Linked DNA regions of Homo sapiens. The protein of the gene in region 1 interacts with the protein of each later gene in a pairwise test. Each region holds a gene or a part of one and is shown in the gene's direction. Other genes may lie near its edges.

Region 1 (3,500 bases):
CAGGGCTCAGAACTGTTGGCTGAGACCATCTTGGAGCTGTTCCTAGCTCTGGCACCAGGCGGGCACCCGAGTGAGTCTAACCTGCCCTCACCTCCTCCCCTCCCCACTTGGCTCTTGCCCTAGGCGAACCACCTCCTCCCTCCCACAGGCCACCAGTGAGCCGTCCTCCAGCCTGCTGTGTGTGAGGAGGGCACCCTCTCCCCCGCACCATGCCCGGGGTCTCCGCAGCCTGTCCCCTCCTCCCGTGCCCTCCCACAGCCCTCCTCGAAGCCAGCGCTGGGTGGCTGCCCTCTCTGTTACCTGGCACTTGAACCTGCCTCTCTGCAGAGGCGGCAGCTTATCAATTATTTATGGCCAAGTTTCTGTTTCTGTCTGGCAGGGGTGGAGGAGGGTTTGGGACTCAGCCCTTGGCTGTGTGTGGCCCCCACACCCTCCTCCTCCTTCTCCTCCCCTAGCAGAGGGCGGCTCTGTCCCTGCCTCCTGCCGTCACTCCCTGTGACTTGTACCTGCTGTGCCACTGGCCACCTCCCTTAGCCACACACACAACCTGCACGTGGACCAGAGGCAGTTCATCAGAGCGGCCCGCTGTGGTTTGAGTGAAGAGCCGGGAGGGTTCACATCTGAATCTCCGACAGCGTCCCAGGGCCAATGCAGCTCCCCTCCCCACCGTCCTGGATGTCTGGAAGCTCCCAGAGGGCCCCGGGTCTGGTTTGGTGGCTTGAGGCTGAATGACACACACAAGAGGCTAAGACCCAGGGGCTGCCAGACACCTCAGGGTGACCAAGGCAGGAGCAGCAGGACAGCAGTTTCCATAGTGACAGCCCCGGAGGTGCTGCGAAGCCTGGGGCATGGGCGGGTTTAGGGCGGGTGGCCCCCACTTACCCGCCTGGCCACCTGTACTGCCTGTGTCTGAGAGTGGCACCTGTTCTGTGGGGTGGGGGAGGTGTTCTGTGGCTCCTTGGCTCTTCCGTGATTTTTTTTTTTTTTTTGAGACACAGTCTTACTCCCATCACCCAGGCTGGAGTGCAGTGGTGCAACCTCAGCTCACTGCAGCCTCGATCTCCCAGGCTCGCATGATTCTCCCACTTCAGCCCCCTAAGTAGCTGGGATTACAGGTACCCGCCACCACACCCGGCTAATTTTGTATATTTTTTTTTAGAGATGGGATTTTGCCGTGTTGCCCAGGCTGGTCTCAAACTCCTGGATTCAAGTAATCCACCTGCCTCAGCCTCACAAAGTGGTGGGATTACAGGCATGAGCCATCGTGCCTGGCGGGATATTTTTTAGATAGAGTCTTGCTCTGTTGCCCAGGCTGGTGTACAGGATCATAGCTTACTGTAGCCTCCATCTCCCAGGCTCAACTGATCCTCCCACTTCATCCTCCTGAGTAGCTGGGACTACAGGCGCGCACCACTATGCCTGGCTAATTTTGTATTATTTGTAGAGATGGGGGTCTCACTACATTGCCGAGGCTGGTCTTGAATTCCTGGGTTCAAGCCATCCTCCCACCTTGACCTCCCAAACCTTCCAAGGATATGAATGCCATCTGGGCTGGCCTTTCTAGCACTGCCCTGGGTGCTGGGGAGGCAGTGTGGGACAAAACACAGAGTTGAATGCTACTGGGGGATTCGGGGTGTGGGGACATGAGAGACAGCAGATTAGATAGTCAGATGGCAGAGTGTTGGGGAAAAAAAGGCAGCGGAGAAGGGGTTAAAATGTAAGGAGGAATCAGGGAAGCCACCACCAGGAGGAGACATTTGGGAAAGAACATTCCAGAATCCTGAGAGGTGCTCAAGGAATGGCCAGGAGTCTAGTGTGGCTAGAGCCGAGGGGAGGGGAGAAGCGGGGGATGAGGGGAGGGCACGGGGCAGGCAGGTGGTGCACAGCTGCGGGAGGAGAGGGCTTGCCTCTGAGCTAGGTTTCCAAGTTCACAGCCCCCAGTGCCTGTGGGGGACAAGCCACAGGGGCAGGAGATAGGGAGGCGGTGGCAGCAGCGTCCTGAGAGGGCAGGGCAGGTAGGGGAGAAGCGGTTGGGTTCTGGGCCTGCTGGGCAGTGGAGCCAGCTGGGTTGGCCATCAGGGTTCTGTCGTGAACAGAGGAGGACAGGCTGGACACCTGGAAAAGATGGCGCGAGGCCCTGCGGAAGCCCCTCCCACTGGAGAGCTCTGGTAGTCCAGTGAGGTCGGGCCACTCTCAATTTCCTTCCCTGCTGGCCAGGACCTTCGTGGGGATCCAGGCCTCTGAGGCCTCCAGGATGGAGGATGCCACCAACGTCGTGCGTGGCCTCATCGTTGAGCTCTCCAACCTGAAGTACGGGGTGGGCTTGGACTCACGGCACAGGGTCTGCGGGAGGCCAGTGGGGACTCAGAGGAGCAGGGAGGGACTGAAGTGTGAAGCCCCTAGGTGGGCAGCGAGGGTCAGGCACCTCACTGCTGCTGGGTCCTCACCGTGGCCCCCCTCCCCCGTCCTTTGCAGAACACAGGCTCTGAAGAAAGGCTGCAACAGGCCCAGCCTGTGCTACAACAGGCCCTTTCTGGTTATGTGCACGTGTGTGAGCCGTGTGTGTGCACCTGAGTCATTGGTGACCATGTGGCTGTGAGGCGCGGCCCCCTCTGTCACCTGGTGACCACTGAGCCCCACACGCATGCCTGTGTTTCCCCCACAGCCGGCTGATCATGGGCACCCACCGGGACCTGGAAGCTTTCAAGCGCCTTAACTACCGGAAGACAAAGCTGGGAGGCAAAGCCCCCCTGCCTTACCCTTCCAAGGGGCCTGGGAATATCCCTCGAGGGGACCCACCCTGGAGGGAGTTGTAGGCCACTTTGAGGTCTGTGTTTCCTTTGCCACCCAGCCCCCATGTCCGCAGACCTCCTCCAAGATGCTCCAGGGGGTCCTAGTGGACCCTACAAACCTCCCTTCAGTTGCCCGGAAGTTGGTCTTCCATGGACAACACAAAGGAGGCCGTGAGGTCCTGGCCTCACCTGGCCAGGGTCAAGGTCATTTGCCACCCTTGGCTTCAGGGAGGGAAACTGTGTCTCCCACAGCCCCAGTGACTTCAAGCGGGCCTGGGCTCCAGGAAGCTGGCCACCTCTGAGCAGGGCCCATCCTGTCCGGATTTGCAAATTTTAGGGTCCTGAGCCAAGTATGGATGGTTCAGAATTTGTTTCTTTCCTGGAGGAGAAGAGAGCTCCCTTTGTTTTCTTTCTCCCCATTTCCATTTTATTTCTTCTGGGAAGACCCATAATAAATGATTCTGTAGAGGCCCCGTGACCTGCTGTTTGGGGCTGAGGCTTCAGTTCCTTCACCTTCCGCCCACAAACCTCTCTACCCACTTCCTCCTCCTCGCCCTCTACGAGTTTTATGCCTCAGCTTCCCTGGGAAAGCAAGGGGGGGGCGAATCTCCAGGGGTGGGTGACTGTGTGCCCACATCTGTGTGCAGGCTCTTGAGCATACACGCGGGTCGAAGCCTAAGAGACGCCCTGGGCGATCATCCAGCTGCA
Region 2 (2,740 bases), on another chromosome or scaffold:
GTTCCAGGACGATGTGGACCTCGAAGACCAGCCACGTGGGAGTCCCCCGCTGCCTGCAGGCCCCGTCCCCAGTCAAGACATCACTCTTTCGAGTGAGGAGGAAGCAGAAGTGGCAGCTCCCACAAAAGGCCCTGCCCCAGCTCCCCAGCAGTGCTCAGAGCCAGAGACCAAGTGGTAAGGGCAGGTGTCCCCACGGGTGCGGCCTGGAGACCCGGGTGGGGCAGTTCAGGACGCCTCCAGAGGACCCTGACTGACCCTCTGCTTGTCCACAAAGGTCCTCCATACCAGCTTCGAAGCCACGGAGGGGGACAGCTCCCACGAGGACCGCAGCACCCCCCTGGCCAGGCGGTGTCTCTGTTCGCACAGGTCCGGAGAAGCGCAGCAGCACCAGGCCCCCTGCTGAGATGGAGCCGGGGAAGGGTGAGCAGGCCTCCTCGTCGGAGAGTGACCCCGAGGGACCCATTGCTGCACAAATGCTGTCCTTCGTCATGGATGACCCCGACTTTGAGAGCGAGGGATCAGACACACAGCGCAGGGCGGTAAGACGAGTCCTCCCGGGGCAGAGGTCAGCCAGGTGGCCAGGGTCCCTCCCACAGGCCTGATCTGGGTGGGTGCAGTGGGAGGAGGCTTCTGGAAGAGGCATCTCATGTCCCCACACTTGGGCCTTGCCGGCCTGGTTTGAGATCCCACAACCCCTGGGGGTGTGGGAGGGATGATGGCCTGACCAGTTGCTCTCCCTGCTCCAGGATGACTTTCCCGTGCGAGATGACCCCTCCGATGTGACTGACGAGGATGAGGGCCCTGCCGAGCCGCCCCCACCCCCCAAGCTCCCTCTCCCCGCCTTCAGACTGAAGAATGACTCGGACCTCTTCGGGCTGGGGCTGGAGGAGGCCGGACCCAAGGAGAGCAGTGAGGAAGGTGGGTGGGGGCACCAGAGTGCGGTCAGCCTGCTGGAGTTTGGGTAGAACGTGGGCCTCCTCCCAGCTGCTGGCCGCTGGCCGGGGTCCTCTCCTGAGTCCAGGATGCTGTGCCATGCTCCTGGCAGCCCCCTGCAGGAGCTGATGTTTGCAGTGTGGTCCTGTCCATCAGCAGGGCCTCCTGGAGGGCTGGGGCTCGCTGCTTTGTGAGTTTCTAGAGAAGTCCTGTCACCCAGCTTGGGGTCCCCGTTGGCCTGAGTTTGAGCCACTGTCTGTCCTGTCTGTGCAGGTAAGGAGGGCAAAACCCCCTCTAAGGAGAAGAAGAAGAAGAAGAAAAAAGGCAAAGAGGTACTGGCTACTCCCCTTCCTGGCAGGCCAGGACTGGGTGGCATGCGGTCCTGGGACCAGGGCTGTGGCTTCCTGTGACTCCATGGCGCCCCATCCTTGTGCTCCTCAGGAAGAAGAAAAAGCTGCCAAGAAGAAGAGCAAACACAAGAAGAGCAAGGACAAGGAGGAGGGCAAGGAGGAGCGGCGACGGCGGCAGCAGCGGCCCCCGCGCAGCAGGGAGAGGACGGCTGCCGATGAGCTGGAGGCTTTCCTGGGGGGCGGGGCCCCGGGCGGCCGCCACCCTGGGGGTGGCGACTACGAGGAGCTCTAGGCCGGCGTGGGCAGTGGCCGCCCTGGGGCGGGGGGCGTGCCTGTCACTGCCTGGGGAGGCATTTGCCTCTGTACCATCGCCTTTGCCGCTGCCCCGTGGCTGCCGTGTGCGCTTCTGAGCTGGAAGAGGCCGGGCATTGGTGGTCCCCAGGCTGGGCCCTGCAGGTGCTGGGCCTTCAGGCCCAGTGTGAGCCTGCTCTGCAAGAAGGGAGGGGACAGCTGGCTTCAGCCAGGCTCGGTGGACACCCTGGCCCTCTCGGGGCAGAGCCGCCAGTGTTTCTCAGGGATGTGACTGAGGCCCAGGAGGGACCTGTGAGGGTCTGTTTACAGAGGCTGGGCAGGGGCCGCTTGGCTGTGGGGTGTGCGCTGCCCCGGCACCTGCTTGCCCTCCGCGCTCATCTGGGGCCGCAGCATGCCTATGGTTCCGCTTCCGGCCGGGAGCCCTGAACACGGGTGTGCAGACTCACCCTAAAGGGCGGCCCAGGCCCCACGCTAGAAGGCTGGCGAGACCGAAGGCAGCATGTGAGGCCTCTCCTGGGAGTGGGGGTTGTGTTTCCCACAGTGGCCTCAGCTGCGCCCCCGCTCAGGTGAGCCCGAAGGCAGGAGCCGGGAGGCACTCCTCCCAAACACTCCACTCAGACCATAAAGCACTCCTGTTTCACTCTGCGTGTGTCTGTTCTTCTGCCTGTACCTCTGCTCCCGCTGCCCCGGGCCCAGGCTGCCGTGGGTTGGCAGGAGGCTGCCCAGCAGTGGTGTGAGGACGTCCCACCAAGTCTGGCCACACCCTGGGTACATTCCAGCCCACCTGTGCCAGGGCTCAGCAGCTGCACGCAGCACGCTTGGCGACCTCAGCCCCAGGAGGTGGAAGTCCACTCTGCAAGGCTCCCAGGCAGCCGCCTGCAGCCCTGCCCCCCGCCTTCAGGCTCCTGCCCCCTCCAGCTGTCAGCAGCGCCCAGCCTCCACCCCCACAGCTACTGTTGCCATGAGAACCCTGCAGGGCAGGCAGGAAGAGTGTGCCAGTGAAGGGGAGGAGGTGGCCAAGCTGGAGGCTCCTCTGCCTGGGAGCCTTGTGGCCCCAGGGTGTTGGGCAGTCACTGCAGTCCCTGAGCAGGTGCTGTGGCCCACAGCAAGCTTAGCCTGGCCCCTTAGCCCACAGCCCATGAGGT

Evidence for each region. The genes of interacting proteins can lie anywhere in the genome.
Region 2: the proteins of BRME1 (region 1) and RABL6 interact in a two-hybrid assay, tested with the Homo sapiens proteins (one large-scale study listed by BioGRID and IntAct).

What each region holds. Positions count from the first base shown.
Region 1 is NC_000019.10:13,882,118-13,885,617, reverse strand, and holds the end of BRME1 (break repair meiotic recombinase recruitment factor 1), read left to right. Parts: intron 1-123; coding exon of another isoform or gene 124-499; exon of another isoform or gene 500-1,115; intron 1,116-2,217; coding exon 2,218-2,310; intron 2,311-2,665; coding exon 2,666-2,816; 3' UTR 2,817-3,270; downstream 3,271-3,500. UniProt on the Homo sapiens protein: Meiotic recombination factor component of recombination bridges involved in meiotic double-strand break repair.
Region 2 is NC_000009.12:136,838,948-136,841,687, forward strand, and holds the end of RABL6 (rab-like protein 6), read left to right. Parts: coding exon 1-174; intron 175-274; coding exon 275-539; intron 540-746; coding exon 747-918; intron 919-1,206; coding exon 1,207-1,265; intron 1,266-1,374; coding exon 1,375-1,575; 3' UTR 1,576-2,240; downstream 2,241-2,740. UniProt on the Homo sapiens protein: May enhance cellular proliferation. May reduce growth inhibitory activity of CDKN2A.